Regions from separate parts of the Homo sapiens genome. Here region 1 is linked to region 2. Evidence: fine-mapped expression QTL. A gene starts in region 2. The other region holds a variant in brackets. All regions are shown on one strand. Distances are from middle to middle. Region 1 overlaps USP36 (ubiquitin specific peptidase 36). Region 2 holds the start of USP36 (ubiquitin specific peptidase 36).

Region 1 (12,501 bases), 35 kb before region 2:
CGCCCAGCCTAAATGCTTATTTACTAATGCTTACATGCTTAATTTACTAATGACCTGACACAATAGAGAAGGCTGTTGTCCAAGTCAATTCATGAGAAAGAAAACATGGAAAATAACAAAAAGCTAAAAACCAAAAAAAAAAAAACCCTCCAAAACCCCTTTAACCAGTAGTGTTAAGTCCTCAGTCTGACAGAAGGAGAGAAGAGAACTAGATCTAAATGGAATCCACCTCACCTACGGGAGAGGCCCATGCCCCAGGACCAGCCTGACACCTGGATGGCCACAGGGGTGGAGGGAACGGCCAAGCTTGGCTGCTGCCATCAGGGGCCCGACCTCCTAAGCCCTGTCCAGGGGGAACCTGGTCCCCATCAGCAACACCGCACAGGTCCACCCAGCACCTCGGGACCAGGACAGCACTCACCACCCTCATCGGGTTCTAGAAACCCTTTCTGAACTCGTCCTCTGCCCAGCTAGCCACATAGCCCCTGGAATATACTCACCTCCCTTCACACAAATCTGACCTCATTTCTCCCTGCCTCCAATTCCTCAGTGAGCTCCAGGCTAAGTGTCCCCTGCCCCCACACAGTGGCTTCCATGGTTCCCATCTCATCCACACAGCCCAGGGACCCGGCCATGCAGAGCAGCCTGCCTGCTCCCAACGTGCTGCGCCTCCTGCCCTTGGGTCTGGTGCCCTGCCCATTTAGCCACTCTCCTCAGGTGCACAGGACTGCAAGAGCCCATGCGGCCCCCAGCGCCTCCTTGCTGAGCATGAGCCCTTACTGTGTGGTTCTGGCTCTGCCAGGGAGCCCCGAGGGCCCAGGGCGCACTTCAGTAGACACAACCAGCACCTGGCATGGACCCTGGCGCACCGCAAGTGCTCAAGTGATGTCCCTTGCACTAACAAGCCAACTCCACTTCGCTCCGAGGGTGGCACGGAGCACAGCTCTGGTGCCATGTTAGGGCAGTATTTTTTTTTTTTTTTTTTTTTTTTTGAGACGGAGTCTCACTCTGTCACCCAGGCTGGAGTGCAGTGGCGCAATCTCGGCTCACTGCAAGCTCCGCCTCCTGGGTTCACACCATTCTCCTGCCTCAGCCTCCCGAGTAGCTGGGACTAGAGGCGCCCGCCACCATGCCTGGCTAACTTTTTGTATTTTTAGTAGAGACGGGGTTTCACCGTGTCAGCCAGGATGGTCTCGATCTCCTAACCTTGTGATCCGCCCGCCTCGGCCTCCCAAAGTGTTGGGATTACAGGCGTGAGCCACCACCCCCGGCCAGGGCAGTACTTCTGAGAGCATGCTGGCCAGCAAACTCAGTCGGCACTAGCTAGCACCCACGTTTTGCTATTTATTTCATACCATTTCATTTTTAACGATAAATTCCTTTCTTAAGAGTTGGATAAATACAAATCAGTCTCTAAGGTCCTGCTGACCCCCAGATGCACTGCCATAATCAGACCTTCCAGACTGCAGAGGAGGCCTCACTCAAGCTCGGCCCCCTATACCAAGCAGCCAGGACTTTCTCTCCCCTTCACTTAACAAATGTGTTCTGTGGCGGGTGCCTGCCAAGGCATGCCCCAGCCAGCCCTAAAGAAAACAAAACACCCTCCGATTGAGGGGTGGTGCCCAAGGACAGCCACAGCACACAGGTCCCCAACAGCAAGCAAACCGTGCTATGTTCTGAATGGCCCAGCTACATAGAGGGAGAGGAGGATTCACTTTTGAACCCAACTCTTCTAAATTCAACCATCACAGAAAAAAACTCAGGCTGGGAGTTCAGGGAGTCATTCCGTGAGAAGCTGTAGACAGAACAGCTTTGAATCGGAAGACCCACTGGCATTCACAGAATGTTTTAAAGTTCATGTGCACTGTAACCTCTCTCATGGGGCTGTTTCAGTCAAATGCTGTGACACATGAGGAAGCTTCAACCCCATCACCCAAGGGAGCAGACTCGGGGGTGGGGGGTGAAGGTTGGTAGGGTCCCAGGGCCCTCCACATCTTCTCCCAGACCCTCCCAAGCTCAGATGCAGTAGACGCTGCTCTCAGCCTGTGCACTCCCCAATACCCCCTCACCCGGTGCACACCCACGCGGTCCCCCACCCCCTTGCCCGGTGCACACCCACGCGGTCCCCCAACCCCTCGCCTGGTGCACACCCACGCGGTCCCCCACCCCCTCGCCCGGTGCACACCCACGCGGTCCAACCCCTCGCCCAGTGCACGCCCATGCGGTCCCCCAACCCCTCGCCCGGTGCACACCCATGCGGTCCCCCAACCCCTCGCCCGGTGCACACCCATGCGGTTCCCACCCCCTCGCCCGGTGCATACCCATGCGGTCCCCAGGACACCAGCCATTCGCGGATGGTGCGCAGCTGCTGGACTCGGGGACAACAGCATCTTGGGGCTTGGCACTCCTTGGGCATTTGAGATGCCCATCCTCTTCTACTGCCCGCTGTGTCTCCTGCTTTCTTTTTTTCTTTTTCTTTTTCCTTGGAGACTCTTCCATGGCCTCTGGATCACCATCACCCATGGGAGAGCAGCTGCTTGGAAGTGAGAGGCAGCAGTCAGCTCTGAGCAAATTGGAAGGGGAGCAGGAGCGCACAGACACCCGCCTGCAACATGGAGAAGGTGCCACCCCAGCTGTGACCCAGTGCACGCAGGTCCCTGCAACATTCTTCCCCCCACACGCATTAGCGGACGCTCCACACGCAGCCACGGAGACAGTAGAGGGAAAACCAGTCGCGTTTCCCATCCTAACTGAGCCAAGCCTGTTGACGCCAATGTGCAGGCTACTGTGACCTGATGAAACGGCAGATCCTGGCCTGGCCCGGGACACCTGATCCAGCATCCTTGAACGGCCCTGCACATACAATGATGGACACTACTGTCCACACCACTGTCGCTTCAAGGATCAATCCACTGGTATTTATCAGAGGAGATATTTTTTCTTTTTTCTTTTTTTTTAGACAGGGTTTAGCTGTCACCCAGGCTGTAGTGCAGTGACGCGATCTCAGCTCACTGCAACCTCCACCTCCTGGGCTCAAACCATCCTCCCACCTCAGCCTCCTGAGTAGCTGGGACTATAGGTGCATGCCACCATGCCCAACCAATTTTTGTTTTTGGTAGAGAAAGGGCTTTTCCATATTGCCTAGGCTGGTCTCAAACTCCTGGGTTGAAGTGATCCACCCGCCTCAGCCTCCCAAAGTGCTAGGATTACAGGTGTGAGCCACCACACCCAGCCAGAGGAGACATCTGATCACAAATCCACATTTTAGAAAACCACGCAAGCAGACTACGTTTCCAGACCATACCTACTTGGGGGTAGATTCTGTGGTTTTGCTTTGTTTCTCGTCAGAGGTAGACAGATGCCACTTTGCTCCTGCCCTTACCTGTGCCGAAGTGGGTCCTGGTGCAGGCCGCCTTCTTCACCAAGACCTTCTGCTCCTTTCCTCCTCCGCTTCCTGCTGCTCGCGTGGTGGCCGTCCGTAACACATCCCACCTGCTGGCCATTCACCTGTGGCTGTGTGCCATCTTCCTGCCGTCTGACAGCGGGCAGCTGTGCCTGGCCCTCCCTCCTGTACATGGGGCTCCCAGGCTGTCTCTGTGTCTGCCCCTCCTGCAGGGCGCTGGCAGCTGTGTCCTCCGGGCGCTTCTTCTTCTTCCTCTTCCTCTTCCCGTGGGGAGCCGCAGTGGCCTCCCTGATGTGCTGTGGGAGGCGCGTCTCTGAGCCCAGCCTCTGCGGCTCTCCCACAAAGGTCTTTTTCCTCTTCTCAGAGGGGCTCTGGGGGGGCTCACTGGCCTCTGGCAACTGGTGTGGAAGAGACACAAGGTCCTCGTTGACCTGAGGCAGCGCCGTCGAGATGGAGGAGCAGCTCCGTGGTTCTGACGTCCCTGGGGGCTTGGGGGTACTGGACAGCAATGTGGGGTGGGGGCTGAAGGGGGGTTGCAGGCGGCTGGATGATTGGGGAGCAGGTGACACAGCCCTGTGGGGACAGCCAGGAAACAGGGAGAGGATGTTCTGAAAGACCCAGCAGAGCTGTTCCTTCTGTCTACCCTCACTCCCCTCCCTTTCACCTAAAAATCTGAAAAGGCTTTTACCCTGTA[G/C]TTTTCAGATACACATTAAGTTACATGTATGTTTGAAAGAAAGCTAACAATTAATTCAACATCTATTTAAATGCAAAGTTGGCCAGGTACAGTGGCTCATGCCTATAATTCCAGCACTTTGGGAAGCCAAGGTGGCTGGATCACCTGAGGTCAGAAGTTTGAGACCAGCCTAGCCAACATGGTGAAACCCCATCTCTACTAAAAATACAAAATTAGCCGGGCGTGGTGGCACACGCCTGTAATCTCAGCTAGTCAGGAGACTGAGGCAGGAGAATCGCTTGAACCTGGGAGGTGGAGGTTGCAGTGAGCCGAATCGCGCCACTGCACTCCAGCCTGGGCGACAAAGCAAGACTCCGTCTCAAAAAAAAAAAAAACCAAAAAAACAAAAACAAAAACAAAAAAAAAAAAACAAAGTTACCTAGGTGGTGGGTTGATAGGTGCAGCAAACCACCATGGCACCTCTGTAACAAACCTTTACATCCTGCACATGTACCCTGGAACTTAAAATAACTGATCCCTGAGATTTAAAAAAAAAAAAAAAAAAAAAAAAAAAAGCAAGCCAACACGTGATTTTAAAAGTCAAAAAAAAAATTTTTTTTTTTTTAAAAGGCAAAGTTAATAAGAATTGTTCCATGCCTTAGTTTCTTGTCACCAAGCAATTCAAGTATTTTTGCGAGCTCTAATGTAAAAACATCTTTAATACAAATGTGTTAAGGGAGGAAACCTTCACGAAACAATAAATGGTAAGGAAAAAAAAGATCCCGTGAGGATTTATTTTCCAACCTCCGAAAGTCTCAGGGTGTTCCCGGGCAGGAAATGAGCCTCATAAGGAAAGCAAGTGTTGAGCTGGCCTAATGACACCTCCACATTACCGTCATTAGGACGCTGAAACCGGGACACAGATGCGTAGAGCAGAATCATGAGCAAGGCGTGTCCGGGACAGGATCTAGTGCCGAACCCAGTGAGGCTCCCTCTTGCCAGCTATGTGTCTCTAGGAAAATTAACTTCCCACTCTGAACCACCATGTTCTCATTTGTCAATGAGCTGGGACCACAAAGCCCACCTCCCAGGGTTCCTGCAGAAAACAGGACCCCCGTCATCATCTAAACAAACTATAAGGGCCATGCCAGCTGCACGATGTTTGATTACTCTAAGTGTCTTCTGGAATCTTTTCCAAAAAAGCTTATAAGGCAAGAAACGAAAAACACCCAAACACTTAAGGCCCTCCCACGTACACAAATCTTATGCTAGGTATAGGGCAGAGGTGTGCTTGTGTGTGTATATGTGAGAGGAGAGTAAGGCAGAGGCTGTGGGCGACGCACAGTCATACCTCGCCCTCATGTAGCACTGGAGATTCTAGAACTAGAACCCAGCGCCGAGGCCACCAGTACAGTCCCCGCAGGCCGCCTCATGACTCACCCCATCTTTCACTGCTTCCGTCCCCACTCCCAGCGGCTTCCAGACAGCCATTTACCAGTTACTCTCAACTTCCTGCCACTCGAGGCACCTAAGAGACGCAGGCAGCCCCTGCGGACCAGGGCCCACATGCACAGGGAAGGGGCTGCATCTCTGGCAGGTGTCTGCAGAGGAACCCGAGAGCCCTGAGACAGTTCTTAACCTGCATGACGCTAGCAGGCAAGACGTCCCACAAAAAACGCTCGGGACTCCGAGCTCACTCAAGCCTCTCGCCAAGGCCTCACTTCGCCTTTCTCTTCGACTGGGAAGTACTGTCATGGGGCTGGTAGGGATACAGGACAGGTCAGTCCCCAGCACACCACATCACCACAAGGATGTCGCAGACAGACCACCAACAAAGACAGAACTAAGACATCAGGACTGCAGAGGCCGAACTGCCTTCACCACCCAAAGCTCCTTTACCACAGGGGAACACAGAAGAGGGGGATCTTGGTCAGTGACGCCCCCCTGTACCTCCTGGCTGCCCCAATGCTTTGTCTGTCCTGTGAGGTTGGCGATTCGTCCAACTCCTCACCAGCCAAGCACACGCAACCACAGGGAGAACCAGTTGGCACCCAGAAGATCCCGGCCCAAAGCTTACCTGGCTCTATGGACGGGCCAAGTGGAGGCAACGACGGGGTGAGAGGTTTTCATGGGGTGGGTGAGGTCGGAGGATGGTGAGGGGGGAGGTGGACGGAGGTCATTGCCGGTCGCCCTCCACAGGGTGCTGGCCTGCAGTTATCGACATAAATAAAAACTTGGTGGTCTAAAAAAGGTTTCCGTGAGTGAAGAGGGAAAACAAAAGTAACAAAAAATGAAAATAAAAACAAAAGAGCCCAGAAAAAAAGATGAGGAGACAGAAGAAGACAAAAAGGGGAGGTGAGGGGCAGGGGAATGGTAGAAGAAGAACCAGAAAAGTATTTTTGGTTAGAAACAAAAAAAAGGAAGAAAATTTAAACAAAAATCTCAGCACAACAATCACATCCACGTGCCGTGGCTGCCCAAGCTTCCTGCTGCAGAGGTGCCGGGCACCCCACTGGGGCTCTGCGCTTCCTGCCCGCCCCACCCCTGCTAGGGACACGTGCTGGTGGGGCCCACCCTCCCTCGGGTTCAGTCAGGATCTTCCACCTACTGTGAAAACAGGGAACTGCTACCTTGCCCAAACCTCCATGAGTCACATGAGCATCACCAGATCAGGGCTCTCTCAACACCCCATACTGCCTTCACCCCAAGATAGCCGTTCTTTAATTGCAAATGGCTGGGAACGACTAAAAGACACTTTGTTCCTCTAACATGAGGGAGGCCAAAGCCCCCGGACAATGTTCTCACTCCCTTCAAACCACAACCAAGCAACTCTTGGAGCTCTCCTGATACACAGCAGCGGCGAGACCCCCACACACCCACCTTCTTGGCAGAAAGGGCCAGTTTTTTGGCTGGTGGAGGAGACATGGTGCTTGCAGGCTCAGTGGTGGTGTTGCTCAGGACAGGGGACTTCAGCTTCACCGTCTTAGAATCTGCTCCACTTGGCGGCGTTTTGGAGTGGCCAGCGGTGGAACAGTTCGTTTCCTGAGAATCGCAGAGATGGGCCGCTCCACTCCTGGGGGTCTGGGGGGCCTTGGTGGAGTCGCTGCTGGCCGAGTGCTCTGGGCTGGAGCTGCTGGAGCCCCTCCTGTCGAGGCCAGCGCTCTCGTCGTTCCCCTTCAGCCCATGCCCGTTGGCAGTGGCTGTAGCCAGGAGCTTAGGTGAGGTAGAGAGGACAACATCCCTGCTGTCCCAGGAGCCCTGCCTTTGGCTCCCAGATCTGCTGCTATTCGAGTTGCTGGTCCCAGGCAGCCCCTGAGCAGTTCTGGGGGAAAAGTGCTGTGGAGGAGCTGGCTTCTTCACCTTCTTTCCAGGGTCGTCTAGGATGGTTGGCATGTGTGTGGGTGTCTGGGAGAGTTTGGGGGAAGGGGACCCCGAGGGCAGCTTTGGAGGAATGCAGCCGTTCTGGGACTTCAGGCCCAGGGTGGAGCCATTCCTGGATATGGGCACACCAATCTCTTCAGTGGTGTGCGGCTTCTTCATCGTCCCAGAGTCTTGTCGCTAAGGAGACCAAAGCAGAAAACACAACTGAGGAAGCGAGAAGTCTCAGCTGGGCCACATCTTCTTAAGGCCACAGTGAATCTTAGTAGCAGGCATGGCCTCTGATTAGCATGCTCAAGATAAATTATTTATCTGGACTCTTGGTAAAGACACTGTGGCTTCTCTGAACAATTCTGGTGTTCTGTGACATCCCAAGAACAGGGACCACAGCCGTGTACCACCACACCTGGCTAATTTCTGTATTTTTGACAGAGATGGGGTTTCACCATGTTGGCCAGGCTGGTCTCAAACTTCTGGCCTCGAGCAGTCCACCTGCCTCAGCCTCCAGAAGTGTTGGGATTACAGGTGTGAGCCATAGCACCTGGCCTGAATACATATCTTTATGGCCACCTTTACTATAAAACCAGTACATTTTCATCAAGATTTGGGAAGAGAAAAAAGTATAAAGGAAGAAATTTAGCAAAGTTCCATCACCTAAACATAACCATGCATTAACATTCTAGTGCTTTCTTTTTTCAATCTTTTCTTCCAAATGGTTCTGGCCTGAAGAGTTGCATCCCAGTTTTATCTTAAAGCTATTATCTCAAGCATTTTTATGGGCGATAACTCTCAATAAATATCTTTAAGACAGAGCCTTGCTCTGTTGCCCAGGCTGGAGTGCAGTGGCATGATGATGTCATCATAACTCACTGCAGCCTCAACCTTCTGGGCTCAAGAGATCCTCCCACTTCAGCTGCCCAACTGGCTAGGACTATAGGAGTAGACCACCACACCCGAATAATTATTACTATTTTGTAGAGATGGGGATCTTGCTATGTTGCCCCGGCTAGCCTTGAATTCCTGAGCTCAAGCAATCCTCCCACCCTGGCCTCTCAAAGTGCTGGGATTACAGGCCTGAGCAACTGCACCCTGCCTGTCGGCCTGTCTTTGACATTTTACTATATATACTATGTACTACTGATACACATTAACTGTATGGTTAATTTATATAAGCTATATTGTCTCCAACTGTTGAAATTAAAAATACTGTACAGTATATGTGTGTGTATCCTTTACCCTTCAGAGCACTTATTACAACTGCATAGAAATAACTTATTATTCTGTATTTAGATGCTGAATGTCAGCCTTCCCCTGCTTGACCAAGAGGCTGTACCCGTTATCTCTCTCGTTCCCACTGCAGCCCTCACCAGCAACTCAAGGGTCTGGTATAGAGTCGGTGCTTAAAAAATATTTGTTGAGCTTTTCCTGTACTTAGTACTCCATGCTAATTTTCTGGAAATGGAATTACAAGGCTAATTTTCTGGAAATGAAATTACAGATTTCATTTTCATGAAATCTGATGCAAAATGCCAAACTGCTTTTACTATACTCCAGCCACATCTATTTTTCAAAACATTTGCTAATTTGACACTCGTTTGGGCTATTACCACTTTAACATTCATATTCTCTGCACATGCACTAAAGTGATCTTCATTTGAATGAGATCTTTTGTTTACAAATGTTAACCTTTTGTTGACAATATTTTACAAGGTTTTATTGCTTCATTTGTTTGTAGTAAATTATGTACAAAAATGTAAATCTTAGTCAATTCATAATTCTTCTACATTTTATCCTTCAACTTTAAGCATACAAAGTCTTCTTCCCTTCCCAGAGGTTAAGAATTTACCTCTATTTTCTTCCAAGTTTTGTTTTGTTCCCTACATTCTATTCTTTGTTAATACTGTTTTCTAAAAGGAATTCATCTTTCCACTGCACCGCAAAGCCGTTTCACTGGCTGAACATTTCCATACACACTAGAACTTGCACCATGTCATTTAGAGTAAAACGGCTCGTCTGCTTGCAGTGTATTTGGAAAATCACGTTTGTAATGAAAATGCTCATGGTCAGTGAAGCGCCCCTGCAGGTGTGCCTGACACAGGGACTCTCCTTGAGCCAATCTCCACCCTCGGGCATCACTCTGCCCATGGAGTTCCTGTGGCAAGTGGGGCTTCCTTTGTTTTTCTGGGGTTTTTTGAGACAGGGTCTCATTCTGTTGTCCAGGCTGGAGCGCAGTGGCACAATGATAGCTCAATGCAGCCTTGTGTTTAAGTGATCCTCCTGCCTCAACCTCCAAACAGCTGGGACAACAGACGTGCACCACCACACCTGGCTAATTTTTGCACTTTTTTTGGAGATGGGGTTTTGGAGATGGGGGTCTTTCTATGTTGCCCAGGCTGCTTCCTTTTTTTGAGATGGAGTCCCGCTCTGTCACCCAGGCTGGAGTGCAGTGGCACAATCTCAGCTCACTGCAACCTCCACCTCCCGGGTTCAAGCGATTCTCCTACCTCGGCCTCTCGAATAGCTGGGATTACAGGCGCACGCCACCATGCCCAGCTAACTTTTGTATTTTTAGTAGAGACAGGGTCTCACCATATTGGCAAGCTGGTCTCAAACTCCTGACCTCAAATGGTCCACCCACCTCAGCCTCCCAAAGTGCCCGGCCCCCCTCTTCTTTTTTTTGTAGACAAGGTCTCACTCTGTCACCTTGCCTGGAATTCACCAGCGTGATCATGGCTCACTGCATACAGCCTCAACCTCCCGGGTTCAAGTGATCCTCCCCCAACAGCTTACTGAATATTCTCTGTGCTGATGGGATCTATGTTGCCCAGGCTACTTTTTAAATTTGTTTTGAGACAGGGTCTTGCTCTGTTGCCCAGGCTGGTGTGGAGTGGTATGATCATGACTCACTCCAGCCTTAATCTCCCTGGCTCAAGTGATCCTCCCACCTCAGCCTCCTGAGTAGCTGGGAATACAGGCACGTGCCATTAAACCTGGCTAGCTTTTGCATTTTTAGTAGAGACAGGGTTTTGCCCAGGTTGGTCTCGAACTCCTGGGATCCACTGATCTTCCCACATCGGCTTCCCAAAGTGTTGGAATTACAGACATGAGTCACAGTCCCAGGCCCAGGCTGCTTCCTAACTTCCTAGTCTGGGCTACAGTGACCACCAACTTTGCAATTATATCATGTATTTTACTGCCACTTCAATTCTAATGCTTCTAATTTCAGCTTCTATTTTCTTTAATGTGAAGAGAAATACAGATGTACGTAAATGACCAAAACCCCTGCAGACTGTGAAAGGCCCTGACTGCCTGTGTGTGGGGTTCAACTCTTCATTCTAAAGGGAGAGGAAGACGATCCATCAAAAACAGTCATCCAGGCCGGGCACGGTGGCTCATGCCTGTATCCCAGGACTCTGGGAGGTCAAGCTGAGCGAATCACTTGAGGTCAGGAGTTCCAGACCAGCCTGGCCAACATGGTGAAACCCCATCTCTACTAAAACTACAAAAATTAGCCGGGAGTGCTGGCGGGCACCTGTAATTACAGCTACTCAGGAGGCAGAGGCAGGAGAATCGCTTGAACCCAAGAGGCGGAGGCTGCATAGTGGCAGAGGCTGCAGTGAGCTGAGATGGCGCCACTGCACTCCAGCCTCAGTGACAGAGCGAGACTCTGTCTCAAAAAAAAAAAAAAAAAAAAAAAAAGAAACAGTCATCAAGAGGGTCCACCCCACTTCAAATGATCACTGTGTTCTAATGAGGAAACTGCTCATGAATCCACTTAGTGAAACTGAATTCTTAACAGTTCTAGCAGAAAATTTCAAATACACACAAAGGTAACTTAGAGGGTAGTTCCTAATGGTTAACCTGTAACCACATAACCTTTATCATCCTCTCTCTGTATGTATATGTACGTGTGTATATATGTATGACTATGTACGTATGCATATACACATATTTCTATTTCTGATCCATTTGAGTAAATTGCAGACATGATGTTCTTTTACCCCAAAATATGTCCATGTGTATTTCCAAAGAACAAAGACACTCTCTTACATAACCACAGCAGAATTACCCAAATCAGGAAATTAACATTGGTACAAACTACTCACATTTTCCCCGTTAAATGTGAGAACAGGCCGGGCACAGTGGCTCACGTCTGTAATCCCAGCACTTTGGGAGGCTGAGGCGGGTGGATCAGGAGGTCAGCAGATAGAGACCATCCTGGCTAATAAAGTGAAACCCCGTCTCCACTAAAAATAAAAAAATTAGCCATGCATGGTGGCACACGCCTGTAGTCCCAGCTACTCGGGAGGCTGAGGCAGGAGAATCGCTTGAACCTGGGAGGTGGAGGTTGCAGCGAGCCAAGGTTGCGCCACTGCACTCCAGCCTGGGCGACAGAATGAGACTCCGTCTCAAAGAAAAAAAAAAAAGGATATTTTTTCCTACACGCTTACGGTTAAGAGTTTGCTTGGTGCCTGTAATCCTGGCACTCTGAGAGGCCAAGACAGGAGAATTGCTTGGGCTGAGGAGCTTAAGACCAGCCAGGGCAACATAGTGAGACCCTGTCTCTACACAAAATTTAAAAATTAGCTGGGTGTGGTAGTGCACTGATAGTCCCGAATACTAGGGATGCTGGGGCAGGAGGGTGGCTTGAATCCAGGAGCTCAAGCCTGCCCTGAACCATGATTGTGCCACTGTACTCCAGTCTGGGTAACAGAGTGAGACCCTGTCTCCAAAAAAAAAAGTTTGCTTGGCATTATAAAGGAAATAAAAGGAGTGCACACAGAAAGTTTGCTTGGCACACCTGTCACGACACCTGTAAGTGGTGCTGGTCTCATGAGTAGAACAGATCTGTGAATGACAATTCTAATTTGTTGGGTCAGAATTTTCTCATTCATGTCTCCTCTTTCTCTATAGCCAATGTCAGCTGATGACCAGTTTAAGAAATAACATTGGCCGGGCGCGGTGGCTCATGCCTGTAATCCCAGCACTTTGGGAGGCCGAGGCGGGCAGATCCTGAGGTCAGGAGATCGAAAGCATCCTGGCTAAC
Region 2 (12,501 bases):
AACCCACACTCACAGCTGCGAGCATGCTCCTTGGAGAGCAGGTAGTTGGCTAGAGGTGGTGTGTAGGTCAAGCACTGGATGGTGGCATTGAGAAAGCAGGTGTTGCCAAGGTTGTGGAGTCCTGCGCCCACGCGGAAGACCCGCTCCCACCTCAGAGACAGTCGCTCCGTGGGGAAAAGCACTTTCTGCGGGGCTGGGACTCCGTCACCACAGCTCTCATACGTGTGCTCACTGCCTGAGGAAGAAAGGGACAAGGGAAGAAAAGAGGAAGACGTAAGTCCACACACAGGTCGTCCACAAAAAGAAACTCCTGAAGCATACACTTAGCATGCAGTGACTCGGAACATGGCACCAGAGAAGAACTGGTGTTCTGGTTTACAGGACATTCCTGGAAAGCTCAGGAGTAAACCCAGCCATCCCACGGACCTCCTAGGCTGCTTGGCTAAAGAATTCAAGGGCCCCTCTATAGATGGAGGACACAGCTCAGAGACTGAGTGGCGGAAGGAGCCAGGCCTGGCACTCTGCACCACACTGTGCCCACATGCAGCCCACCCCATTTCTCTTTCTTAGTTCCAAGCCTGACTTTCGACTGTATTATACTTGGGATAGGGGGACAGCAAGTCCAAGGACCCACCAAGTACACAGATCCACCAAGCACACAGATTTCCTTGCTACCAACCCTGTATCATTACTTCTATAACTGAAATCCACTGACCCCATGTAAAAATTCATAACTCTTTGACCACATTCTCTTGTTTTTCCTACTAATTAGTCAATATTTAAGTCCATCCACTTCGTCACCCCGGAGTGAGGGCCTCTCTGCCAGCACACTGCACATCTGTACCCTGTCTCCTGGCCGGTGGGTCATCTCCACTCTTGTGGCGACTAGCTCCCTCTGTTTTGGGGTTGAGCAACACATATTTGCTCTTTAAGGCCTCCAGCTGGTAGGAGAAGCTCTTGCTGGCTGGCTCGAACTCGATTTTCTGTAAAAGGACCTTCTTGGCAGAGGAGGCAAGAAGCTTCCCCAGTTCTCCATCATCAGCCGAGTCCTTGCGGCCGGGTTTCAGGGCCTCCTTCAACTTATCCACTATTGGCATGGTGCATCACTGTGGGGACAAGAAGAAACATAGAGCCATAGATAACGAAATCCCGGGACAAAAACATCTCTTAAGATCTCCTCTTTGGTCATTATGGATGCTAGCCACCACAAAAGCTCCCCTGGATCAGTGATCCCCTGGATCAGCTGCACAAAGGAAACAGGGAGACCCAGCACTAATCACTTGGACATATTAGTTCACATTTCCCCCACAAAAAGATAAGATGCCACTACAAATAGAGGTGAGCAGACAACAGTGGCCCTGAGGCAGCCAGACAGCCCCTGCCATGTGCATCTCTTCATCAGATACTCATCAAGTGGCTCTGGACATCATTCTTGGTGCCATTTCCTTCCAAAGGTCATCACGTGGTCCAAATGTCTGCTCCAAAACAGGGGCACACTAATTCTCACATACAAACTGGTTATACACACACGGACACACACACACACACACACAAACGGACACACACACACACACCCACGCAATAAATGAATTAGCATGCAGGTCAGATGAGCATGCATGTCTGTACAGACCTGCACTCTTCAATATGAAGGCCACAGGCCACACGTGGCTACTGAGCATGTGAAATGAGGCTAGTCCAGGTTGAGAGGTGCTATAAGTGTAAAATGCACACCAGATTTTGAAGAGAAATACTCACTAGTATAAGAAGAGAATGTAAAACATCCCAGTAATTTTTAGATCAGTTACCTGTTGAAATGGTAATATTTTATATATATTGAGTTAAATAAATTATGAAAATGAATTTCACCTGCTTCTTTTTAATGTGGCTACTATAAAATTTTAAATTATATTTGTGGCTTGTATTAATCTCCATTACACAGTGCTTGGAGTACAAATTATCTTTTTAAAAGTGAGGAAGGAGAAGAAAAGCAAGTAGCAGGCCTAGAGACTAGTATCCATTAGACACCTAAACTTAAACAAATGTCTTCCCAGGACTCTTATCAAAAGAGAAGAAGAAAAGCCAAGCAGGAGAGTGGGGAGATCACAGGCTTTGGAATGTGGTGGCCCCGGGAGGTTCTATCATCCTTAGCTATGAAACCCAGGGACAACTACTATGACTTCTCCAAACCCCCTATTCTACTGTAAAATAGCAACAAAAATAATAGGCTTGGGAAGTGCTTTAGAGCTTGCTACATACTACAGTCCCTAACAGAGGATCGATACTGTTGGTGCAGCTGCATGGAAACTGTAACCAAGAAGAGACCCCTGCACCTCTCCAATCGCTACCTTTGTATCCACCACTTGCCCTCCCCTACCCACCACCTCTCAACTTAACCTTCCCAAACACAGCACAGACTATCTGAGTCACAATTTCAAAAATATGTCCCTTAAATTGCTCACTCACATCAGAAAAATGATGACTTCCTCTGGTATTCAGTACCCAGCCTGCCCTCAGAGAATCAACAAGTCAAGTGTGCCCCAAAATTCTGCTCTAGTGAAAGTAAGGACTTCCTCCAGCACCTCATATTAAGCCATTCAAATTTATCACTGTGGATCATCTAATTCTATACATGGATCAAGTATCTTTTTCTACAAAAACTTCTGTAAAGAAAAGCCAGGTGCAGTGGCCTGGGCCTGTCGTCCCAGATGCTTGGGAGGCTGAGGTGGGAGGATAACTTGAGGGCAGGAGCCTGAGGCTGCAGTGAGCTATGATTACGCCTGTGAATAGCCAGTGCAGTCCAGCCTGGGCAACATCGTGAGACCCCATCTTTAAAACAAAAAAAATCGTGGCTCACGCCTGTAATCCCAGCACTTGGGAGGCCGAGACGGGTGGATCAGGAGGTCAGGAATTCAAGACCAGCCTGGCGAAGATGTTTCTCTACTAAAAATACAAAAAAACTAGCCAGGCATGGTGGCAGGCGCCTGTAATCCCAGCTACGCAGGAGGCTGAGGCAGAGAATTGCTTGAACACGGGAGGCAGAGGTTGGAGTGAGCCGAGATCGCGCCACTGCACTCCAGCCTGGGCAACAGAGCAAGACTTGGTCTCAAAAAAAAAAAAAAACAAAAAACAAAAAACTTCTGTAAAGAAATTTCAGAAGCTTATTTAAAAAAAAGCATTATAAGTTGTCTGATTTGAGAAAATAAAAGAGCCTTTTCTCATGAGAATTATCAAAGACTTCTCACCAACTGAACAATCACTGCTGCGTCACATGCAGACAATTCAACGGAATCAAAAAATACACAGAAGCCTCGCAGACTCACCTGGGATGTGCAGACTTGGGCCTGCTGTCCTACTGCGGCATGGAACCAGGATCTTAACGGAGGGCTGAGTTTGGTTGGGCAGGTGCTACGCGGAGCTCCTGAATGTAAGCGCTCCTGGACTGTGGCCTGTTCAAACACCGAAGCCGCAGAGCGGGCGTCAGAGCCTGTGGGAGGGACAGGGAGACCATCAGTGGAGGCGACTCTTCCTGTGCCTTCTCTTCAGCTACTTCCCAGGGATGCGGCGCGCACCGGGAACCCTCTACCACGAAAAAGCCGTCCAAGGAGCATCCACGCGTGCACTCAGGATGAGGCGGGTGGACCGTACTACCTCATCACCAGTTGTTGTAATGCACACGATATGAACACCTTAACCTTGACCCCAGACAAGCCCAGAGAAGGAAAACCTCCCCAACACCTGCCAGTCAGCTCCAGTCTAATCTTATTTCCAAAGAGTAAGAGGTAATAAATCCCCAAGTTTTGGATTTAATGAACCAGTAAAACTTCAATAACAACAACAACAAACCTCAGGGAGTAATAGGAGTTGCCAAAATTTTGCTTTGCTAAGTGTGGATTTTCTCTTTCATTACCATCTACGATCACTATGATTACATAAAATTAAGGTTCGTAAAAACAGTTTACAGTGAAAACATTCAAACACACAGATGGAGAACCGCACAGGGAGCACATGAGCCCCCCTTATTCAGCCTCAGTAACTACATCTGACCCATCCTGAGTCACTTCCCATCCCCAGGTAATTCTACAGCAAATCTCAGACCTATGACTTCATCCATAAATAAAAGCATACCAACTCCCGAAAAATGTGTAAGGAAATGATCTCAGAATAAAAGCCATCTACAAAGTGAAGACATCCAGTCGTATTAAAAACTCCCCACAATATCACTGCTTTCGGTTAGGACTCACATCTACCCTGGAAGGTGAGAACTCTGTCATGCACAACCAACGCTTGAGAACCACTTAGGGAGGGGATAAACGAACCTTGGGAGATGTAACCCAGTTTCACTCGAGATAAGTAACTTTGAACTTAACCCACTCCTTAATGTAGATGCAGAGATTTTGAACACAATTTTTCAAGTGGGACAGGTCAATCTCTACTTCACCAATTCCACCTAAAACATTAAGCAATAACCTAAACAACGCTCGCTCGCTCTCTGACGTGTAGGAGCCCGAGACAAGTGTTCCTGTAATCACTAGCAATCCCTCCGACGCACACACCATCCACACTCTACCCAACTCAGGAAGGATGCTCTCTCTTGTCCAAGGACAGCACAGGCCTCATCCACATTTCCACCTGCGCGAACCCCAGCCAGCACCATTTAGGCTCATTCCCGCTCCCTCCTCCTTCTAAAGTCACTTTTCCAGGATGAACTGCAACGGACGCTCGCAGGGTCAACCACGTGCTGGGGAGAGGAGCCCACGGAAGCAGCGGCCTCCCGGGGCCCAGCGCCGCGCTCCAGGGGCCTCCCGGGCGACTCCGCAGCGCCTGCCCCGAGCCCGGCCGCGGACACAGCGACCCGAGCACCTCTCCCCGAGCATGGCTCCGTGGCGAGCGTTACGTAAACGGGGGCGCGCGGAGTCTCCCCTCTCGTGTGTCTGGGTTTGGCGGCCGCCACTCCAGCCCCAGGCCCAGGACCCCCACGCCACCCGCCAGAAGCAGCAGCATCGGAACCGCACCCCGCCCCGGGCTCCATGGCCTCCTCCGCAACCACGAGGAAGGTGCCCGCCCCGGGGCCGCACCCGCCCCGCTGAGCTCTGCGGCCGCACGCGACGCCCTCGCCCTGATTCCGACTTCAACCTCTCCGAAGTTGACCTGAATCCTGCACAGACAGCGGGCCCCGGCGACCCCCATCACCGGCCCGGAGCCCGGGGGACGGCGGAGACCGGCGAGGACAGCCCGGCCCCGGACCCTCCTCGGGAATACCCGGGCTCTGGAGAAGCGAGCTCGCGAGCGGGCGGAGCATCCCGGGTCCTCCTCGGGGACGGCCGAAGCCCTGCGCGGACCCGCGCCCACGTTCTCCCTGAGCGTCCCGGCTGCGCCCGCCAGCCCTTCCCGCGCCCCAGGCCTCGCGGAACCCCCCGCCCCGGTCTCGTCCCCAGGCCTGCGCACCGCCCCGACCCGACCCCAGCCTACCCCGGCCTCTCCGCGGGCGCGCCACAAGCCTACGCAGCCCTGGCGACTCCTTCGGCCCGCGGCCCAGCACGCGCACCATCCGGGCCTCCGGCGCCTCACACACGTGTCACCGCGACGCTTAAAGGCGCCGCACCCAGCGTTCGCGCTGCGCTAACTCCGAAAGGGTTGGGAGGCTTTAAGAGGCGGGGCTAGATTCCGCTAACTCCCTGTCCCCGCCCACCGCCGCTTCCGTGTCGCCTACGTCACCTCCCCATCACGGGACCCCGCCAGCCTACGTGATGACGCAAGTGCGCAGAGCCACAGGCGCTCCCGCCCCTGTGCCGCGGCAGGGTGACGTCTCCGCAGCGCACTAGAGGTGCCGCTACTTCCGGGTCGGCCGAGCACACCTGGCGGCGTGGCGGACGCCTGAAGTGTGACAGTGGCGCGCGCCCCCGCCCCAGAACGGGGACTCGAGGGACTTTGCCCACCCCTGCAACAGCCCTCCCGCGCTGTCTCCCGGGCAGGGAGAAGGCTGGGCTCCCCCACCTGCCCCTGGCCGTCAGGTGGCTGTGGAGAAGCGGAGGCGCGGGCGCTCGGCCTTAACGTCCCGGGCTCTGGGGCCATCCGTGACTCCCACACGCGGAGCACCTGCAGTTTGGGGAGGGAGGGATCTGGGAGCGATCGGCCAAAGCCTGGGGCTGCCGAGGAAATGGCTCTTCGGAATTAGGGATCTGAGAGTGTGAGATTTGACCTTTGTAGGCTGGTGGCGGCTGTGCAATCTCTAGCTCCACCCACTCCCTCCAAAAGCTTTGTCCTCTGACAGCTCTGCGAAGGTTTTAGCTGAGTATTTGTGAGCACGTATTTCTTTTGCAGTATTTTTAAAAATCCTCTTGATCTGAGGCAACTTCGCTGGCTTCCTCCCCATTCCCTTGGGCAGGTTGAGAGTGTTGGTTCCTGGCCTGACCTCAGAAACTCAGAGAAGCACAGGATGGGCATAAACTACTTTATCCAAAAGGCAGAACTTTGCAAACACAGTCGTATCTGCTGTGTCTTTTTTGATGTAAGTAGGAATGATGAGTAGGGTGAAGTCACAGGTAAACAACCCAAAACGAATTTCCATGCCCTCCCCACGGATCCTAAAGCAGGGACTGGAGATGGGGAGAGAGGCTAGATGTACTTGGAACAAAATTCACCTTGTATTTATTACCTGGGCGCTGGTGTTTTTTGAAAAAAGCAAACAAGATAACCATATTAGTCTGATGCTGAGACTATGCCCTATCTGTAAGAATCCTTGGGCTGGGCGCGGTGGCTCACCCTTGTAATCCCAACACTTGGAGGCCAAGGTGGGCGGATCACCTGAGGTCAGGAGTTCGAGACCAGCATGGCCAACATGGTGAAACCCCGTCTCTACTAAACATACAAAAATTAGCTGGGTGTGGTGGTGGGCGCCTGTAATCCCAGCTACTCAGGAGGCTGAGGCACGAGAATCCCTTGAACCTAGGAGGCGGAGGTTGCAGCGAGCTGAGATGTCGCCACTGCACTCCAGCCTGGGCGACAGAGCGAGACTCCGTCTCAAAAGAAAAGAAAAGAAAAGAAAAAAAGGCAGGGCACAGTGGCTCACGCCTGTAATCCTAGCACTTTGGGAGGCCGAGGCAGGCAGATCGCTTGAGGTCAGGAATTCCAGACCAGCCTGGCCAACATGGTGAAAACCTGTCTCTACTAAAAATACAAAAATTAGCTGGGTATGGTGGCGCACGCCTGTAATCCGAGCTACTAGGGAGGCTGAGACAGGAGAATCGCTTGTACCTGGGAGGTGGAGGTTGCAATGAGCTGAGATCGTGCCATTGCACTCCAGCAGCCTGGACAACAGAGCAATACTTGGTCTAAAAAAAAAAAAAAGAAAGAAATGCAACGTAGGTCTCTCACGAAATTAGCCCAAATCTTCAGCCATCTTCTACAGGCTGTGAAACCAGGAGAGGAATTGAGTCCATCTTACCTTGACCTCCCAGGCAGGGAGCGGACCAGGTAATTTTTGGGTGACAATACAACTATTCTGTTAATGCACCTTTTTCTTGAGGTAAGTTCTAATGTGATCCGTTTTGGTTACAGCTTTCTATAACAGAATATTTTATTCTTTCATCTTTAATGTTTCTCTAGTTTTCTCTTTTAGGATTTAGAGATCATTCAGTCTCATCTCAAATATTTCAATTTCCATGTGGTTCTTTCATAAACATTTATCCACAGTGAGCCTGCCCTGCATTCTTTGGGTGTGGCTGACAGTTGCAGCCACCCTCAGGTCTGCGGGGGTGGGTGTGTTGCCCCTGAACTGCAATAGCAGAATTTCTCCCTAGCCTGGCAGGGGAGTGCAATCGTGGACTTGCTTTTCCACCCGCTGGGGTTGCATTTCATAGGTGCCGAGTGCCTGGGGGGCCCAGGCCTTTTCACATGAGGGTTTTCAGCCCAGATGTCCCTCCTGCTCTAGGGGAACCCTTCACATCAGTCAGGTGACTTGCTGGACTGGTAGAGCCTCTGCCATCAGCCTCTGATGCAAAACCTTTTCTCAGGTGTCTGTGCGGTCCATGGAGACCCGAGTTCCCAGGTTTGGGAGGGATGCCACTTTCCTTAGGAAGAACAGCAATGTATGTCGTCCTTCCCATCCATGCAGATGGGACAGGGCTCTCAGGAAATCTGCCATTAGCATCGCCCTAGAAGATGCACAGGCAGAGGCAGCTGCTGGGCACAGGCACTTGGGGAAGACAGGAGCCATGACGCCACGCCACCTGTTGGTACCCAAAGGAAGTGGCTCTTTTGGCTGCTTGGCACCATTCTTATGACCCTTCCATTTTGTTTCTAGTCTCAGAAGGGGTGGAGAAAGTCATCCTTCCTAAATGGTGTTGACTCTCAGACATCTGACCGTGCCAGGAGAATGGCTGTGCAAGGCGGCAGCCCAGGCCCGGGCAGGTGGCGGCCAGGAGTTGGGACCACAGAGGGCACTAGCAAGAGCAGCAGCTGCTCCGAGATGCTTTGGCACAAGTCAGGATACGTATTTTGTAGTTTTCTCTTGTTTTTTATTTTTCTGAGGTGGAGTCTCACTCTGTCGCCCAGGCTGGAGTGCAGTGGTGCAATCTCAGCTCACTGCAAGCTCCGCCTCCCGGGTTCAAGCGATTATCGTGTCTCGGCCTCCAGAGTAGCTGGGATCACAGGTGCACGCCACCACACCCAGCTGATTTTTGTATTTTTAGTAGAGATGGGGTTTCGCCATGTTTGGTCTTGAACTCTTGGCCTCAGGTGATCTGCCCCCCTCAGCCTCCCAGAGTGCAAGGATTACAGGCGTGAGCCACCGCACCCCACCTCCCGGCCTTTTCTCTTGTTTCATTTTGGTAAACTAAATTAGTTTAATACCTCTACCCCATCGGTGGTTGGAATTCCCCACCTCAATCATTTTGGGGGCTCTCTGCCTCCTTTGAATAGGACAGATCTCCAGGGGTTTACCCAGGCTCCGAAGAGCCACTCCAGGCAGCCGGCTGTTTGGGGAGGTGCACCCTGGTCTTCTAGTCTGCGGATTCCCTGCATCGCTCCCCTGGTACTGCTCTCAAGCTCAAGGGTCACCTCAGCCAGATGTGCCCTAGGCTGGCAGAGGTCCTTCCCCTAAATGCAGCTGGGCAGGATGCCACCCTTTCTACAATAAGTTCGGTCCCAGGGATTCCCCCAACACACACACACATACATTCTCTCTTACTCACATCCTCACACACACTCACACACCCCACCACACTCACACACTTTCAAAATCCACCGACTCTCACGCTCACACTCGCCAGCCCTTTCCCTTGCTCTGTCACTTCCCTCCAAGTCCCCGCCCCACACAGCCTCCTGCAGTCCCAGCCCCCTTGGTGCCAGCCATCTCTGGTGCCAGCCATCTCCCCCAAATATCCACCCTTCTGGGCTCCTTTCTGCCCAGAGGGACCTGAAGTTTCCCTAGGAAGCACTTGCTAAAGGCCTCCAGTCTCCAACTCCTGGGGAAGAAGGATCCAGGCCTCTGCCGCACAAAGCCTCCACTGTTCTCTTGGGGCTGGCACCCCTTCCTGTGGCCCTGTGGCACCAAACAAATTGATTCATCCAGCGAATATTTCTTATTTACTCTGTTCCACATGGTGGTGAGTGAATCAACCCTGGACTCTCCCCACAAAGGACTTAAGAACACGCAGGTCATGAACAAATGAACACTTTTGCATAATTTTTATGACCAACGGTGACCAGGCCAAGAGCAGGATGAGGTGATGGAGAATACCTTGGCCTGGGGCATCGGAGGAAACTCTTGCGAGGATGTGCTACCTCCGTTGAAAGTGGGAAGATGAGAGACCGGCTGTAAGAGGAGCAAGGGAAGGAGGTTCTGGAATGAGAGAACAGCACGAACAAAATGCCCGAGACAGGAGCGAGCTTGGCACCTTCAAGAAAATAAAGAGGAGAATCACTGAACCTGGCACGTGGAGGTTGCAATGAGCTGAGATCGCGCCACTGCACTCCAGCCTGCGAGACAGAGCGAGACTCCATCTCAAAAAAAAAAAAAAAAAAAAAAAGGAAAGAAAAGGAGGCCATTGGGATGGCTGAGGCTGGAAGGGTGGACCAGGTGCCCCACAGGCAAGAGGTCCCAACTATAGATGAAGCACGCAGGCTACAGACAGGTGAGTGGTGCCTCGGGTGAGAGGCAAGTTTGTCTCCATAGGTCATCCTGCTACACGGAATTCTCCAGAATCCCCTGCAAAGGTGTAGATGGGCTGGGTGCAGTAGCTCATGCCTCTAATCCCAGCACTTTGGGAGGTCGAGTCGGGCGGATCACCTTGAGGTCAGAAGTTCAAGACCAGCCTGACTAACATGGTGAAACCCTGTCTCAACTAGAATACAAAAATTAGCTGGGCATGGTGGCATTTGCCTGTAGTCCCATCTACTCAGGAGGCTGAGGCAGGAGAATTGCTTGAACCCGGGAGGTGGAGGTTGCAGTGAGCCGAGATCGCGCCACCGCACTCCAGCCTTGGTGACAGAGCGAGACTCTGTCTCAAAAAAAAAAAAAAAAAAAAAGGTGTAGATGGCTTATGCTTTGTGATTTTCAATGTGACTTGTTTTTATTTTTTTCCAAATCTATAGGTCTTTTATTGAATCATCTAAATATCACAGATACTTAGGTCTGAGGAGTCATCCAACATCGTGTTTCTGTAGCTGGACAACTCTTAGAACCTCCTCAGCAGCCTGCGGAACTGTTCCTTTTTAGGAGACGTAGACAGCACCCCAACATTTTCTGATATCCTTGTTTTTAACTATTGCTGCTTGCTGAATCAGAGCAGCTGAATTTGAACAAGACTGAAACAAGCTCAATGTCGCTTCCTTCAAAGATTAATTCGACATTCTGGGCTTGAGATACTGAATAAGCAACACCTGGCCTCATCCGAACCCTGCAGATGGATTTTCCACCCAAGATGTTTCAGATTTCAACGAGAGTCCCGTTCTCCTGGATAACGACGTTTCTGGGGAAGTGAGCACCCACAGAGGTCATCTTGTAATGGAACCCAGGGCAACCCCTTTGACCATGCTCCGTACACGACTATGAACAGTCCCAACGGCAGCCGGCTCCCTTCAGTTTCCCCACCGTTTGTCAACCCGGAGCCTCTTTTCCTTTCCAAGGAGACTGAGTTCTACATTGATGTGATTGAAGTCTCTCCTCAAGGCTGTGTGCAGTGGCTCACACCTGTAATCCCAACACTTTGGGAGGCAGAGGCAGGCGGATCACTTGAGGCCAGGAGTTTGAGAGCAGCCTGGCCAACATGGTGAAACCATGTCTCTACTAAAAATACAAAAATTAGCCAGGCGTGGTGGCACATGCCTGTAGTCTCAGCTACTAGGGAGGCTGAGGCAGGAAAATTGCTTGAACCCAGGAGGCGGAGGTTGCAGTGAGCCAAGATCGCACCACTGCACTCCAGCCTGGGCGACAGGGCAAGACCCTGTCTCAAAAAAATAAAATAAATAAATAAATAAATAAATAAATAAAGTCCTTCCTCAGGGTTCCTCTCAGGCCCTTCCCAATAACTGTGTGTTCCTTTAGAGTAATGTTGACCTTTTCTGGAATATCCATGGGTTGGTTGCTGGGAACGGTCTTCATTCTCACAGTAGATGCGGCAAAGACAGCAGTTTTACTTTTTTAATATAACTTCCAGGCATCTTAACCTTGGAATTTTGAACATACTAGGACGTGTCTTTCCATGAATATTGTAAATTGTCAGGCTGGTCTAACAAGGCGGTTTTGGAATTCCACTTTGGGAGGTGTAGGAAGAATAACTTTAGAGCGGACCAACCCTCAGACACTGCTGGTAGGCATGTAAAATGGTGCAGTCACTGCAGAAAACAGGACAGTGCTTCCTCCAAAAGCGAAACATAGGACTACTATACATACTATCTATACATACTATATAAACTGTATATATACACTATGTATACAGTATAGACATAGTATATATGTCTACACTATATACATAGTATATACACATAGTATATACACATAGTATATATACATAGTATATACCCAGTATATATACATAGTATATACACAGTATATATACATAGTATATACACAGTATATATACATAGTATATACATATAGATATACGTATATACTATGTATGTAGATATAGATACTATCTATATATATATTATGCTTCCAGACTTAATTATTGCAATACAATTTTTTGTGTACTATTATGTATAATTATATTGTAATTTTATTATTTATTTATTTTTGAGACGGAGTCTTGCTCTGTCACCCAGTCTGGAGTGCAGTGGTGCCATCTCAGCTCACTGCAACCTCTGTCTCCCGGATTCAAGGGATTCTTCTGCCTCAGCCTCCCGAGTAGCTATTACAGGTGTCGCGCCACCATGCCCGGCTAGTTTTTTGTATTTTTAGTAGAGATGCGATTTCACCATGTTGGCCAGGCTGGTCTTGAACCCCTGACCTCAGGTGATCCACCCTCCTTGGCCCCTCAAAGTGCTGGGATTCCAGGCGTG

What was found. PIP is the estimated chance that this variant, and not a neighbour inherited with it, causes the effect.
Region 1: its variant is fine-mapped to the expression of USP36 in B cells (CEDAR, PIP 0.95).

Annotation. Positions count from the first base shown.
Region 1 is chr17:78,800,003-78,812,503 of GRCh38, forward strand. USP36 (ubiquitin specific peptidase 36) reads right to left here. Exons shown (of 21, transcript NM_001385174.1): 14 at 6,957-7,634; 15 at 6,154-6,284; 16 at 3,383-3,976; 17 at 2,322-2,533. Among named protein-coding and RNA genes, the nearest start is that of CYTH1, 24 kb to the left of the region's middle. The variant G/C (reference allele first, on the strand shown) is at 4,098.
Region 2 is chr17:78,835,267-78,847,767 of GRCh38, forward strand. It overlaps USP36 (ubiquitin specific peptidase 36), which reads right to left and starts at 5,548. Exons shown (of 21, transcript NM_001385174.1): 1 at 5,470-5,548; 2 at 3,321-3,484; 3 at 845-1,106; 4 at 14-235. The coding sequence starts at 1,097. LOC124904067 (a long non-coding RNA gene) reads left to right here and starts at 5,848. Exons shown (of 2, transcript XR_007065923.1): 1 at 5,848-10,133; 2 at 10,594-11,526. It also overlaps the pseudogene RPL9P29. RefSeq lists enhancers at 3,002-3,516, 3,517-4,031, 5,626-5,815 and silencers at 4,956-5,475, 5,936-6,035.